Regions from separate parts of the Homo sapiens genome. Here region 1 is linked to region 2. Evidence: fine-mapped expression QTL. Tissue or cell type: T cells. Region 2 holds a variant in brackets; the other region holds the start of a gene. All regions are shown on one strand. Distances are from middle to middle.

Region 1 (8,000 bases), 67 kb before region 2:
ATATATCCACAGGTTCTGAGGTTGGGGCATGGACATCTTTGAGGGGAGGGGCATTATTCTGCCCATCACACCACCTTCTACAAAAGATTCACAGAAAATGTAGGTAACTTGCCCAGGTTCACACAGCTAGTGAGTGGGGGATTCCAGATTTGAACTTGGGCCTGTCTTGACTCCAGGCCTAGGCCACTGTCCCCAGACTCATGGGAGATACCAGGTGTATTAGTCGGTTGTCATGCTGCTAATAAAGACATACATACCCAAGCTAGGTAATTTATAAAGCAAAGAGGTTTAATTGACTCACAGTTCCACATGGCAAGGGAGGCCTCACAATCATGGCGGAAGGCAAATGAGGAGCAAAGTCACGCTTAACATGGCGGCAGGCAAGAGAGCTTGTGCAGGGGAACTCTCATTTGTAAAACCATTAGAGGCTGGGCGTGGTGGCTCACGCCTGTATTCCCAGCACTTTGGGAGGCTGACGTGGGCAGATCACTTGAGGTCAGGAGTTCAAGACCAGCCTGGCCATCATGGTGAAACCCCATCTCTACTAAAAATACGAAAATTAGCCGGGCGTGGTGTCACATGCCTGTAGTCCCAGCTACTCCAGAAGCTGAGGCAGGAGAATCACTTGAACCCAGAAGGCGGAGGTTACGGTGAGCTGAGATCCTGCCACTGCACTCCAGCCTGGGCGACAGAGCAAGACTGTCTCAAAAACAAAAACAAAAACAAAAACAAAAAAACAACCAAACAAACCAAAAAAACCACACACACACACACACACACACACACACACACAAACATTAGATCTTGTGAGACTTACTCACTACCATGAGAACAGTATGGGGAAAACCACGCCAATGATTCAATTATCACCACGTGGCCCCACTCTTGACACGTGGGGATTATTACAATCCAAGATGAGATTTGGGTGGGGACACAGCCGAAGTATATCACCAGGCTCTGCTAAGCACTGAAGGCCATAGTGCTTGTTCATAGCTTCCTTTTAACATCTATTTCCTTGTACTGAAGGTATGTGTTCATATCTATGTGAATTATTTGAAAATGAAGACTGGGATCTTTTTTATTTATTTATTTATATATTTATTTATTTGTGAGACAAAGTCTCACTTTTGTCCCCCAGGCTGGAGTGAGATGGTGTGATCTCAGCTCACTGCAACCTCCGCCTCCCGGGTTCAAGCAATTTTCCTGCCTAGGCCCCCCAGGTAGCTGGGATTACAGGTGCCCGCCACCATGCCCAGCTAATTTTTGTATTTTTAGTAGAGACGGGGTTTCACCATGTTGGCCAGGCTAGTCTCGAACTTTTGACCTCAGGTGATCCACCCGCCTCAGCCTCCCAAAGTGCTGGGATTACAGGCGTGAGCCACCGTGCCTGGCCTGGGATCTTTTGTTTATTATCACTTTTATTTGTTGTTCAAGCAACTGTATGATAAAAATCAGACAAACAACTATATATATATATATATATATATATATATATATATATATATATATATGTTTTTTTTTTTTTTTTTTTTTGAGACAGAGTTTCACTCTTGTTGTCCAGGCTGGAGTGCAATGGTGCCATCTCGGCTCACTGCAACCTCTGCCTCCCGGGTTCAAGCGATTCTTCTGCCTCAGCCTCCTGAGTAGCTGGGATTACAGGCGCCTGCCACCACGCCCGACTAATTTTTGTATTTTTAGTAGAGACGGGGCTTCACCATGTTGATCAGGCTGGTCTTGAACTCCCGACCTCAGGTGATCCACCCACCTCAGCCTTCCAAAGTGCTGAGATTACAGGTGTGAGCCACCGCACCGAGCCAGAGAGACAACCATAAATCACTAGTGAGTTTTCACGTCCCCCAGTTTCTATCCAAGTGCAGATATCGCTTTTCCATGGTTAAAATTATAGCACAGACACTATATTGTATTGTTTTCCCCAATTTTTTGTTATAAAAATTTTCAAACATAGAGAAAAGCTGAAATATATAGCACTACTTAGAGCCAACAATAGTAAACATTTTGCCATATTTGCTGTCTCTCCCTGAATGTTTATGTGTGTACATGATTTTATCTTTTGTTGAACCATTAAACAATAGTTTACAGGCATTATGGCCTTCACTCCTCAACTCTTCAGAATGCATCTCCTCACAATAAGGACATTCTCTCAGTGAGCACAGTATAATTATTACACTATAAAATTACCAATAATTCACGAAGATCACCCATATCCAATCCATATTCAAATGTCTCCAATTGTCAACAAATAGTAAAACCAGCTTAAAAGACATATCAGGATCCAAGCAAGATGACACATTGTATTTGGTTATGTTTTCTAGCTCTTCTATTTTGGAACAACCCCTCCCTACCACTTATATTTTTCTTTTCTTTTCTTTCTTTCTTTCTTTCTTTTTTTTTTTTTGAGACAGAGACTCGCTCTGTCACCCAGGCTGGAGTGCAGTGGCACGATCTCGGCTCACCGCAACCTCCGTCTCCGGGGTTCAAGTGATCCTCCCACCTCAGCCTCCTGAGTAGCTGGGACGCCTGGTGTGCCACACTACATCCCACCAATTTTTGTATTTTTAGTAGAGTTGGGGTTTCATCATATTAGCCAGGCTGGTCTCCAACTCCTGACTTCAAGTGATCCGCCCGCCTCGGCCTCCCAATGTGTGGGATTCCGGGTGTGAGCCGCTGCGCCTGGCCCACTTATATTTTTCATGGCATCCCATTTATGAAGAGACCAGGCTCCCTATTTTATGTAACGTGGGAATGGATCTTCCTGTTCATCTCCTCTGCTCAGTGTACGGTCTAGCAAGAGCAGACTCTCTGTAGGTGTTTGTTGAATAAATGAAACCAATAGTAATGGTTATTAATAACAATCCCAGTAGCCAATTTTTATTGACTATTCTCTTGGCCAGTGTGCTCACGTTAATCTAATTTGAACCTCACAGAAATCTTACGCGTTATGACATATTTGTCTTATTCACAGGTGAGGAAACCAAGGCTTAGGGAAGGAAAGTCGCTTGTCTGAAATCACAGCTAGAAAAGGGGCCAAAACCCAAGGGTGGACCCACTGGCTGGAAAACAGTGCAGTTAGGCAGGGGCCCCTGTTTCTTAATAATGAATGAACCAACGACCCCCAAGGCTGGTTTGCCCGTGCACACGCACGCACGTGTGCAACACGTAGCACTTGCTGAGTGTTTGCTACTTGCCAGGCCTCATGTCAAGCACTTTACGCGTGCTTTTATGCCCTACGTTTTGTTTTTGTCTGTTTTGCTTTTTTCCCCTAATGCCTAGCCAAAGGCGTGGCCCAGGCGCCCAGGCAGGACTTGGGGAGTGAATGAAGAGTGAACAAATGAATGAATGCGCGGCAACGGGATCTTCATAAACCAGACCCTCCTCGGGGATCTAATGCGAACACTCCCGAGGCCCGGGCCCAGGTACGCTGAGGGCGGCTCGTGGGCCCCAGGCCGACCTCAGCCCGCGACTCCCGGGCTCCGGGGGCCCAGGTGGCCCCCAGTAGGTGAGGAGCCGGGCCCGCCGGCGCCTTGGCGTTGCCACCTCTACCTGCCTGCCCTCTCCCCTTCCGGATCCACAGCCAGGCCTCGGCGGGCTCCTGGTGTGCAGCCGCCCGGCCGCTTCCGCCCGAGGGTCGCGGGGCTCAGAGTCCGGCAGGCTCCAGGCGGGGCAGGGGATGTCCGCGGCCCGGCAGGCGCACGCCCACCTGTCGGCCGCGCAGGCGCAGCAGCGGGCCGGCCTCCCCGCGCCCCGCGGCGCGCGGCCAGTGCGCAGGCGCGGCGGCCGATGCGAGTGTGTATGTGCGGGCGAGAAGATGGCGGCGGCGGGGGAAGCAGCGTGAGCAGCCGGAGGATCGCGGAGTCCCAATGAAACGGGCAGCCATGGCCCTCCACAGCCCGCAGGTAGCCGCCGGTCTGCGCCTTCGGCCGGAAGGGGCCCGAGCCCCGGGCGGGCGGACGCCGCGGCGGGCGGGCGTCCGCGCCCTGCCCGGAGCGAGCGTGTGGGAGTGGGGGAGGGCGCTGGGACACGCTGCCCGGGCCTAGGCCGGAGCCACCCGCCGCCTCCGCGCCCGCCGCGCCTTCGTCCCCTGAGCCACCCGGACCCCCTAGTCCCGGGGAGGTCGAAGGGCGGGGGCTCCGGGCCCCGCTTGGGGAGGGCGTGGAGGGCGCCGAAGGGGTTAACCTCCCTGGGGCTGGACCGCGGGGCGAGCCCGGGGTGTGGAGTGGGGCCCTCCCCGCCGCGCCGGCCGGGGGAGGCGGCCCGGGGGCTCCGGGAGTCCCCTGGAGCGCAGGGGCCCCAGAGCAGCTCAGGTTGCTGCCTCTGCCTGGAGCGAGCCTCAGAGATTTGGGGGTGCCCTGTTGCCCCTTTGCCCCAAGAGCTTCCTTTCTCAGCTTGATTGATGATGCGGGGGTTGCCGATTTTCTGTTTTTTAGATAGAAGTAGCAGAGTAGCGGCCTTGGGCTGCTGTTGCAAAGAAAACTCGAAATAAGTCGCAAGGACCGTACTTTCACTTGCGTTTGAGTGACATCCCTTGCACGAATCCATCCCAGCCAGGCTGACAACTAACGCACCCTGCCTGAACAGTAGCTAAAGCTTGGGGGCCCTTTACAATAATCCCGTGGTGGAAAGAAAGAGCTCTTTTTGGGAGATGTGCGTGTAGAGTTAAGCTCTTATTCCCCTCTCCCACCCCTTCTCTCACATCTTCTCCCCCCTCCGCCATTATAATTATTCTGGACAAAAATCGGCATGATGTATTATTTGTCAGCCTTGCTTTAGACTGCTAATTTGTTGACATCTGGTCCCTATAAATTGTTGCACACTTTTAAACCATCTCATTGTGTATTTGTATTAAATATGGGGAAATGAAACAAAGTAGCCATTCGGGAAACTGATTGCGAGTAAAATCATAACCCTTCATGAGCAATTGGGTTTTGTTGCCCTTCTGCAGATGAAGTCAATCTGACTACACCTCTTTTGAAACATGATTTTCGGAACTATTGTAATGAATGCGTGTTGTGGAATCTAAAATGCGAAAACTTTTTAAAAAATTAGATCTTACGACAAGCTTCAATTTTGTTAAATTAGCTGTAGTTTAGTTTGCATCAGAATTTCCCCCTTTAACGTTTTGTTCCCTTATTCATTTACTTTTGTAAGTAGTGTAGGTCTTTGCGCCAAAAAAGGGATCAGTAGTTGAATAATTTTTACAAATGTATAGCCCAAAGATTTTAAGAGATTTGGTGTATTTAGCTTTGTTTAGACCTTTCTGTTAAAAAAAAAGATTTGATATTTGCTTTTTTCTCAACTTAAATCCTAATTAACTAGCTTATTAGAATTGGTATGAACAAGTAAAAGGCTCATTATGAATTAATGTGTAATATTCCTTGTGATTTTGACATGAAGAAAGCATCTTTAGGCATAGCTCACTTCCTTTATTTAATAAGCATCAATCACAATTCAAGGTTGATTGAAATGTTAATTAATGGGGATGGATAATATGTAAACTTAATTGTAATTTCGTTTGCATTCATTGTCCCAGTATTTACGTTTTATACAACAGTCTAAAGCGTTATACACATCTTTAGAAAATTGGAGTAGCAAAAGTTGGCGGAACGTAAATGTTAGCAACACTTTGGGTTTATTCTTTTAAAGTATGATTTAAATGCTTTTAAGTTTTAGCATGGAGAAAGTAGCAAAGGAAATAGTTTGATTTCTCATAATTTTCTTCTTCTTTTTTTTTTTTTTTTTGAGTTGGAATTTGGCTCTTGTTGCCCAGGCTGGAGTGCTGTGGTTATTAACCTATAAACTTTTTTATTTATTTTGAGATGGAGTTTCGCTCTTTTTTTTTTTTTTTTTTTTTTTTTTTTGAGACGGGAGTCTTGCTCTGTCGCCCAGGCTGGAGTGCAGTGGCATGATCTCGGCCCACTGCAACCTCTGCCTCCCGGGTTCAAGCGATTCTCCTGCCTCAGCCTCCCAAGTAGCTGGGATTACAGGCGCCCACCACCATGCCTGGCTAATTTTTTGTATTTTTATTAAAGACGGGTTTCACCATGTTGATCAGGCTGGTCTCAAACTCCTGAGCTCAGGTGATCCACCCGCCTCGGCCTCTCAAAGTGCTGGGATTATAGGCGTGAGCCACTACTGCGCCTGGCCGATTTCTCATAATTTTCATTTTAAAAGAATAGTAATGCAAACAAGTAATGGAATCATGTATGACAGGATTTAGTTACTGGTTCCTGCTCCAGTCATTCTGAGCGTTTTAATAAATTTGTTTTACTTGGTTGCCTACTGTCCTAAGAGTCTTGCAGCCTTAATGGCCATTCATTCATTCAGCAAATACTGATTGTTTATCAGATATTAAGCGTCATGGTATGTATATTACTTGTTTATGTTGGGAATAACAACTGCAAATTGAAGGTCTTATTTTAAAATTGACTTGTTAAAGTTAAATTTGTCACTGAGAATAATGGGAGGTGGAAAAAGTTACAGTTTAAAAATGTTTACAGGCCAGCGCGGTGGCTCGTGCCTGTAATCCCAGCACTTTGGGAGGCGCAGGTGGGTGGATCACTTGAGGTCAGGGGTTCGAGATCAGCCTGACCAATATAGTGAGACCCTGTCTCTACTAAAAATACAAAAATTAGCCGAGTGTGGTGAAGCTCGCCTGTAGTCCCAGGTACTTGGGAGGCTGAGGCAGGAGAATCGCTTGAACCCGGGAGGCGGAGGTTGCAGTGAGCCGAGATCATGCCACTGCACTCCAGCCTGGGCGACAGAGCAAGACTCCCGTCTCAAAAAAAAAAAAAAAAAAAAGAGCGAAACTCCATCTCAAAATAAATAAAAAAGTTTATAGGTTAATAACCTTATTTCCAAATATTAGAAAGTGTTGGTTGATCCCTGTTACCTGTATTGAAGTGTAATAGTGAAGAATTTGGAAACATTTTGAGACCGGTAACTCAGCATTTTAGCAAAGACAAATAAATGAACTTTAACAGTTGAAGTGTAGGTCCAAGTGAATATCCTTGTCACTGAGGGGACCGGTTAAATTATTTGGGGTAATTAATTTGAAGCTATTAGTTTTGCCTTACACCGAAAAAATATTTGTGATTATTGATGTCATTTATAGTGAAATCTCCACAATAATGCTTCCTACACCCAATTTGAATGTCATGCAGTTGGCTTCTGTCCTTGTCTCTGCATAGACTCACCCCAGTCTCTTTTTTAGCTTGTAATAGCAGATCCTCCACATTTTACATGATGGAAAGTCTTGGATTCCCCCTCTAGCATATGGCTGAATGTTACTGTATTGCTGAATATCTGTTTCTAGCCAACAGCTGGATTAGTGTTAATTCTTAAAAGAGATACATTTTTATTAGAATCTCAAGTAATGAGCAGCTGAAGTAAATACAATTGTTTGAAATGTTGACAGGGCATTTGGAGATAACAGTTTTCCTTTGCATAGTGACAGCAAGCTATTTAAACATGTCCTAAGAGTAGATGTTTTAAGTTTGTGAGCCAGTGGTCACCTTAGTGGTTTGTACAGATGGCCTGAGAAGTTTGTGAGCCAGTGGTCGCCTTAGTGGTTTGTACAGATGGCCTGAGCAGCCGCGCCGTACCAGGACCTCACCATCATGCTCTTGAGCCCATCTCATTGAGAGCACAGCGCACTGAAATTCCAGTGAATACTAAGCGGGCCTACCACATTCTAAATTCCTCACTAAAGCAAAAGTTAGGACATGTATTCCAGTGTTCTGTTACGTGGAACTGATAGGATTTAAGCAGTGATTCACATAGGAAAACTTAAAGGAGAAAAGGATTACGAAGCTTAATGATTGCTGTTTAATGCCAAGCCTAAGCGGCACGTTGCACTGTGCTGTGCTCAGAATATAACATTCAAGTAATTGAGAAAAGTGGTATCATCTCCAATTGAATTAGTTACATCAGGGTTTTTGTTTCGGTTTTTTGTTTGTTTGTTTGTTTTTAAAGATATAATTTCA
Region 2 (8,216 bases):
ATCTGTCCATCCATATATACATACATACGCATACATTTTCCCTGAATGATTCAAAGTTAAGTTGCAGCTAACAGTTTAGTTCATCTCAGGTGCTAAAGCATCTCCTGCGTAACCACAGTCCCTTATCTAACTGAGAAAAACAACTGTAATGACACGGTAATACCGACTTTGCAGAGCATCTTCAAATTTCGCCAGTTGTCCCAGGGATGTCATTTCTAGGAGTTTATGTAAACAAGGATCCAGTGGTGGTGCACCTGTTGCGATTGGTTGCCGTGGATCAAGTGGCATTGCAATGGGTTGCAGTGGATCCAGTGGCATTGCGCCTGTTGTGATTGGTTGCCGTGGATCCAGTGACGTTGCACCTGTTGCGATTGGTTGCCGTGGATCCAGTGACGTTGTGCCTGTTGGGATTGGTTGCCATGGATCCAGTGACGTTGCACCTGTTGCGATTGGTTGCCGTGGATCCAGTGACATTGTGCCTGTTGCGATTGGCCGTGGATCCAGTGACGTTGCTCCTGTTGCGATTGGTTGCCGTGGCTCCTAATGTAGACCACACCCTGATTTCATTTTTAAAACTGCAATCGACAGATCTGTGCCTTTTTTTTTTTTGCTGTTCTTGTCGTAAATAGTAGTGTAAGCAGATGCTCTCCTTTTCAGAACTTACGATTTCCAACGGCCCCAAAAACCACTCGGTCAATGAAGAAGAGCAGGAAGAACAAGGTGAAGGAAGCGAGGATGAATGGGAACAAGTGGGCCCCCGGAACAAGACTTCCGTCACCCGCCAGGCGGATTTTGTTCAGACTCCAATCACCGGCATTTTTGGTGGACACATCAGGTTTGTGCTTTTCTGGAATAACTTAATATTTGCCTTTTCTAGGGTTTTGCCATGTTGGTGAAGGGGGAAGGTGTGAGGCTTGTTTTGAGACTTCTTGGACGTAATGGTTTGCATCTTGCTCCCCTGCCTGCTCTTCTCTTGCACTTCCTGATGCTTCCCTTGTCAGCCCCCGTGGCTTATTCTCTCCCTGCTGGCGCATGTCTGCAGGGGACAGGGAGCTCCTCCCTTCTACTCTGTCAAGTTCAGCTGCTCACTGCTAGGGAGTAAGAGAAAAGCCAGCTAATTGGCCATACGCGGTGGTTCATGCCTGTAATCCCAGGACTTTGGGAGGCCAAGGCGGGTGGATCACCTGAGGTTAGAAGTTCGAGATCAACCTGATCAACATGGTGAAACCCCGTCTCTACTAAAAATACAAAAATCAACCAGGTGTGGTGACAGGCACCTGTAATCCCAGCTATTAGGGAGGCTGAGGCAGGAGAATCGCTTGAACCCAGGAGGCAGAGGTTGCAGTGGCCCAGATAGCGCCATTGCACTCCAGCATGGGTGACAGAGTGAGACTCTGTCTCAAGAAAAAAAAAAGAAAAAGATACAGGAGAATGTCATCATGACTTAGGGGTAGGCAAAGGTTTCATAAGATAGGTCATAAACAATAACCACGAGAGAGAGAGAAAAAAAAATATATATATATATATTAGACTTCATCTGCATTTAAAACTTGCAACATAAAACCACCTCCGGGAGGCAGAGGTTGCAGTGAGCCAAGATTACACCACTGCACTCCAGCCTGGGTGACAGAGCAAGACTGTCTTCAAAAAAAAAAACCAGCTAACCAAACCATGTGTTTTGGTAAGAGAAGACAGTGTATCTGGAGGAATTTTATTTATGTTAATAAATTGTGTATATTTAAAGTATACACAGATGTTATGAAATAGAGATAGTAAAATAGTTGCTACAGTGAAGCAGATAAACATATTCCCCATCACAGTTACCCTTGTGTGTGTGTGTGTGCACATGGCAAGAGCAGCTGCAGTTTTACTCATTTCACAAAAGTCCCAAATACAGTGCACTATGAGTAGCTCTTGTCCGATGTTCCACATCAGATCTCTAGACCTGTTCGCCTGTGTGGCTGCCCTTGGTGTCCTTCGACCGACATCTTCCATTCCCACTCGCCACCCCTAGGAACCACTCTTTTCCCTATCTCTGTAGTTTCGTCTTTTTTTTTTTTTTAATAAAGATTCCATGTATAAGTGAGACCATGCAATATTTTTCTTTCTGTGTCTGACTTCTTTAACTTAGTATAATGTTCCCCAGGTTCATTCCTGTTGTGGCAAATGGCAGGGTCTTTATTACAGCTGAATAGTGTTCCCTTGTCTATATATACACACCACAGTTTCTTTATCCATTGGCCCATCCACAGACAGTTGTTTCCCTGTCTTGGCTGTTGTGAACTGATTGGAAGCAGGTGAGGTAGAAAGTGAAGAGAGTGTGAAGGGAGGTCTTTTTTACACAGACAGACCCGTGACTGGGCTGGAGTCCCTGGGCACCTGGCTGTGTGCCAGTTCCCTTAAGCAGCTTTTTGCTCATTCACAAAGTCCTTCGGAAAGGTTTTTCTTTATTTACCTGAGAGCTTTTCAGTACCACTGTGATGTGGAATTCAGCAAAACTTGTACCATCTCCAAGAAGGTTTACCCATCGAAAGTACTGAAGAGGCCTCATTGGAGCCTAATTTCCTTTCTGAGGCCTTGCGGCATAACCCCCAGGCTGGTATTTCAGTGACACTCTTAGTCTGTTGTTGTCCCAAATGCTGCGTACCTGAAAGAAAGAGCACCCCTTTTGAGGCATCAAGACTTGATTCAGTCTCAGTTCTGAGACTGAATCAACAACTTTCAACAGGTGAATAATAAGAACCTCAGAAACCTGCGCTGACGCCCTCAGAAGCTGGTTTCCCGTCCTCTGTGGAAGTGGATTTAGAAGCCAGTTGAGCAGCCATGTGACCTTGAACAAGTCACTTCTGTGTTCTGCACTGTGAGCTCTATTCCACTGGCCCCTTTCTATTCTGGTGCTCTGTGGAGTGTCCACGGCAGCTGGGTGGTCAGTTGTCACCTGGGAAACACCCAGCCCTGACCACTGTCTGTGGTTCCTTGGGACACGTCGTGTTGGGAGGGAGACGCTGAGGTCCAGGTTGGCGCGCAGCAGCGAGGGAAGGCTGTGCCCTTTGCTCCTTCAGCCCAGCAGCCTGGTTTAGGATTGTGAGGACACCCCCTCGGGATGGGAGAGAAAGATGAATGGACAGCTCAAATGGAGGCATCGGGAACATGGTTTTTGTGCAGAGGCCGGGTATCAGAATTTCAAGGCCACAGAGGGTCAGCATACTCAAAGATCCCAAATTTGTCTAAGAGTAACCAGTGGAAAATACCAGCGTCCATTTGGAGGACTTGCTGGCTCAGATTGAACAGCTCTGTCACAGCTGCTAGCCACATCCTCTGAGGGGTCTCTGTGTTGAAATTGGTTGTTGATGTTTCTTTTTGAAAAACGGTAAAGCAAAGATAGGGAATTCTTACAACGTAGGAACTTCTTTTCAGCCATTGTTAAGCATGATTCTTTATTCACACCAATTGAAAGATTTACTTCTAAAACTCAGCCTCTTCAGATGTTTTTCAGTTTCC[C/G]CAGGAAGACTTCCCCGCCTTTCTTCCCCGGTGCCACCTTTGCTAAAACACAGGACCACTGAATCAAGAGGGCTTCTTGATTCTCCACCAGCTCTCATGAGCGGTTTCCCCACTACTGTATCCCTCTCCAGAACCAGGGGAACTGTTGTCACTGAAGTCTTCAAACTGTAAAGGAGCATGGAGATGCGTAATTAAACCCTGGACAGAAAAGCTTTTAGCGAGCTCTTCACCGCATCTGTTCTGGAAAGCCTGAGTACCTGTCCACACCCATTTTATTCCGTTGAGAAACTAGGTCACCGAGACTGCAGAAATAGAAGCCCTTGTTGAACCCCTGGAATGTTTCCTTGCTGAGGCTAAATGAGAGATGGGCCGAACACACAATTTTTACTCAGAAAAACTTAGAAAAAGGAAAAAAAAAATGAAATGAAAAACCAGCTAAGAAAACAAGGTCAAATTGGCGCCCTTCTTGGAAGGGTGGCAGCCTTTTTTCCTGGAATGTTAACTTGTTTTTTATTCTACACACCCTACTCCCCTTCTTCTTTTTGTAAGACATCTTTATAGGAGGAAAATGCCATTAAAAATCCTCTATTTACCTTGGGATTTCCTCTATTTTATTAGAACAGGCTATGATACTTGGAGAAAATGGAAAGCAGCAGCGTTTTGAGGCCATGGCAGGGTGGCTGCCTTTATGAACCGGTGCAGTAAATAACAGTGTGGAGAGGAAGTGAAAGAATTTGGAAAATGAAATATGTTTTCTTCCAGAGCACTGGCGTTGGGAACATTTATCAACTGGTAGATTTAGTTGTTAGAAATACTAAGGAGGTGCTATTCAGCAGAATTATTATTATTTTTTTTAATTTATTTTTTTATTGATAATTCTTGGGTGTTTCTCACAGAGGGGGATTTGGCAGGGTCATGGGACAATAGTGGAGGGAAGGTCAGCAGACAAACAAGTGAACAAAGGTCTCTGGTTTTCCTAGGCAGAGGACCCTGCGGCCTTCCGCAGTGTTTGTGTCCCTGATTACTTGAGATCAGGGATTGGTGATGACTCTTAACGAGCATGCTGCCTTCAAGCATCTGTTTAACAAAGCACATCTTCAGCAGAATTATTTTTAAATTCAGTATATTTTTGGCTTTTCTCTGTGGTCTTTTGAAAGTGATATTGAATAATCTTATTTTCAGTGTTTATTCCCTTGGTTAATCTTAAGGGAAAGTGGCAAGGAGTGGTCTCTTAATTTTTTTGTTTTTGCTTTCAATTCTTAGGTCTGTGGTTTACCAGCAGAGTTCAAAAGAATCTGCCACTTTGCAGCCATTTTTCACGTTGCAGTTGGATATCCAGTCAGACAAGATACGCACAGTCCAGGATGCACTGGAGAGCTTGGTGGCAAGAGAATCTGTCCAAGGTTATACCACAAAAACCAAACAAGAGGTATGTTCACACTTGATTTTGAACCTTTCTACTAAGGTGCTCTGGTTTGGTGGAAAGAACACAAAATTAGGAATGAGGGGAAATGGGTTTGAGTTATGCCTCTTAAATCAGTTGCTTAACCATTTTGTACTGAAAGTTTTTATGGTTTTACAATGAAATGGTTGAAACGTGATCCCAAGGGCCTCTTTTAGCTCTAAATCATATTACACAAGGTAATGATCTCCTTTTGGATTGTTTATCTTGAGCTACATTTAATTTTCTGGCAATCTAATGATGATATCACAACATCAATACTACCTCTGACAGAGGCCAAATAGCTTATTTATGTTCATGATACCGTAGGGTACAACTGTCATTAGATTAGTTAGGATGTCAGAGAGATTCCAGACACATCTGTTTTGCATTTGATTGTAGATCTTCCAGGTCATTGTAAATATAATATAGTCATTGTAAATATAATATAGTCATTGTTCTGATGCTTGTTACTCTTTGATTTGATCTGGAAAAGGTAAGATTCTTGAGTCTTTCAGTCTTCATGAATTTAAGAGTATCACATTATAGCTTGGTGGAGTCCTTGTCAACTCAGTTGGGCGAGACGGATAGCATTCTGCCCTGTGAGAGCTTATTAGTTCCTGGCTGTCCAGATGTGCCAGCTTATAGCTATTTTGTACTCTGCAGCAGAGAGTGTCTTCTCTGTTATATATCTTAGGTTGTGGCAGTGAATTCATAAAAATGCACTGGGGAGATGAATGCAGGCTGATAATTATGGACGGTCCATAGCATTCCTGCAAAGCGATATTTGAATAATGGGCAGTGGATGGCAGCTACAAGGTAAAATAAGGTGCCCCAACGTAGAAGACCTGTCATCACATTGCATGACTGGGATGGATCTATCCTTGGCTTATCTTGTGTGCTCTGAGTCAGAAAGAGCAAAGTAGGACATAGGGACCCTTAGCACCTTCGGGGTGTCCTGCTGTGGACTGGTTCACCCAGGCTCTGGGGGGATCAGTAGAAGTTATGCCTAATCTTCTACCGTATTTGCAGACTTGCATCTCATGGGTGATTTTGTTTAAAAAATAGAAGCAGTAGGAGCCAGAGGCAGAAACTTGGTAGTTGACTTCAGTGAATGAGCTAAGAAGAGTCTGGCGGTGGACCTCGTGGAAGAGAGAGAGGGAAAAAGTGGTATTTGTGTTGGGGAGGTTGGTTGGGTGGTTCAGTTGTGCATTGTGGGTGACTGTCGGCTTGGCTCACTTCTGTGGCAGCTGCAACTCCAGAGATAGCTCCCTGGCCCTGGCTGCTGGTGCACTCTGCTTATGCTGTTTCTTGAGCCAGCTATGGGAGTCTTTGGCCACCCATGCTGTTGGGGAGGTGGTCAGCCTTTCCATGGGCTGCCTAGGGAAGACCCTTTTGTGATGTGTCTGTTTTTCTCTTTTGCTTCTGCTGCAATTACAGTTTGACTTTGCTGGGGTGGGCTGGTAGGGGTGGCGGTGTGGGGGCAGGGGTTGAGGCGCAGGTAGTTGTTAGCCTGTTGTTAGACGGTAGTGAAGAAAGAATGGTTTATCCTAAATAGCAGGTTTGGATGAAGGCTTCCAGAAAGAAGGCGGGCCAGGTGTGGTGGCTCACGCCCTTAGTCCCAGCACTTTGGGAGGCTGAGGCAGGAGGATTGCCTGAGCCCAACAGTTGGAGGCTGCAGTGAGCTATGATCACGCCACTGCACTCCAGCCTGTGCGATAGTGAAACCGTGTCTCTAAAACATAAGAAGAAATAAAAATAAAGGAAAGCTGGCATTTTGGTGGACTCCGGAAGATAAAAAGGATGCTGCCAGCCGTTCTGGGTGCGTGGTTGTGGTGGTGTGTTACCAGATGAGGCCAGGACCACTTTCAACAGCAGATGTTTCAGGAAGATTTGGGACAGCTTGTATGGAAGTATCTATAAGGAGCAAATTACATATTTTCTTGAATGTGTTTTTTTTTAAGTTTTTAAAATGCCACCTTTAACTTTATTATGTTTTAGATCAGAAGTATTTTTCTGTGGGAACATGTGAAGGTTTTGGGGAAAATAGGATTATATGAAATATTTGCTATATAGAAAATGTCTGCCTTTGTTGAGTGATTAGAAATTAAGCCTCAGTTGGCTGGGCGAGGTGGCTCACACCTGTAATCCCAGCACTTTGGGAGGCCAAGGCGGGTGGATCACGAGGTCAGGAGATCGAGACCATCCTGGCTAACACGGTGAAACCCCGTCTCTACTAAAAATACAAAAAGTTAGCCGGGCATGGTGGCAGGCGCCTGTAATCCCAGCTACTCAGGAGGCTGAGGCAGGAGAATGGCGTGAACCTGGGAGGCGGAGCTTGCAGTGAGCCGAGATAGCGCCACTGCAGTCCGGCCTGGGCGACAGAGCGAGACTCCGTCCCCAAAAAAAAAAAAAAAAAATCTCCAGTGGCTGATGCCTGTAATCCCAGCATTTTCGGAGGCTGAGGCAGGCGGATCACAAAGTCAAGAGATCGAGACCATCCTGGCCAACATGTTGAAACCCCATCTCTACTAAAAATACAAAAATTAACTGGGCATGGTGGTGTGCACATGTAGTCCCAGCCTCTCAGGAGGCTGAATCACTTGAACCCTGGAGGTGGAGGTTGCAGTGAGCTGAGATCGCACCACTGCACTCCAGCCTCGATGACAGAGCGAGACTGTCTCAAAAAAAAAAAAAAAAGTGTTATCCAAATGAATATGGGAAGCATCAAAGACTTTGTAAGTACAGAGAATGATAAAGGGATTGTTATTTGTAAAGATGCATCTTAGTGACAAAAAACCTGGCTTTATTTAAAAGCAGCATTCATCAGACCTGTGAAAGTACTTCAGGAACAGATTACATTGATAAAACTCATGATTAGAATAAATAGCTTTAAAGGTTATTTAAAACATCTAATTGGCCTGGAATCCCAGCACGGTGGGAGACTGAGGCGAGCAGGTTGCTTAAGTCTAGGAGTTCAAGACCAGCTGGGCTCATGGCTGTAGTCCCAGCTACTTGGGAGGCTGAGGTGGGAGAATCACCTGAGCCCAGGAAGTCAAGGCTGCAGTGAGTCCTCATCATGCCACTGCACTCCAGCATGGGCAACCAGAGTGAGATCCTGTCTTAAAAAAACAAACAAACAAAAAAACCCACCTAATCCTACTGGTATCAGTTTTATCAATACTATCAGAGTTATTTTAAAATGGGTCAATACTAGGCCTAGCGTGGTGGCTCACGCCTGTAATCTCAGCACTTTGGGAGGCTGAGGCAGGTG

Evidence for each region. PIP is the estimated chance that this variant, and not a neighbour inherited with it, causes the effect.
Region 1: USP10 starts here. The variant in region 2 is fine-mapped to the expression of USP10 in T cells (TOPMed, PIP above 0.99).

What each region holds. Positions count from the first base shown.
Region 1 is chr16:84,696,198-84,704,197 of GRCh38, forward strand. It overlaps USP10 (ubiquitin specific peptidase 10), which reads left to right and starts at 3,803. Exons shown (of 14, transcript NM_005153.3): 1 at 3,803-3,914. The coding sequence starts at 3,894. RefSeq lists silencers at 3,275-3,794, 3,885-4,104, 4,115-4,224, 4,265-4,374.
Region 2 is chr16:84,763,429-84,771,644 of GRCh38, forward strand. USP10 (ubiquitin specific peptidase 10) reads left to right here. Exons shown (of 14, transcript NM_005153.3): 10 at 658-835; 11 at 4,765-4,930. Among named protein-coding and RNA genes, the nearest start is that of CRISPLD2, 52 kb to the right of the region's middle. The variant C/G (reference allele first, on the strand shown) is at 3,502.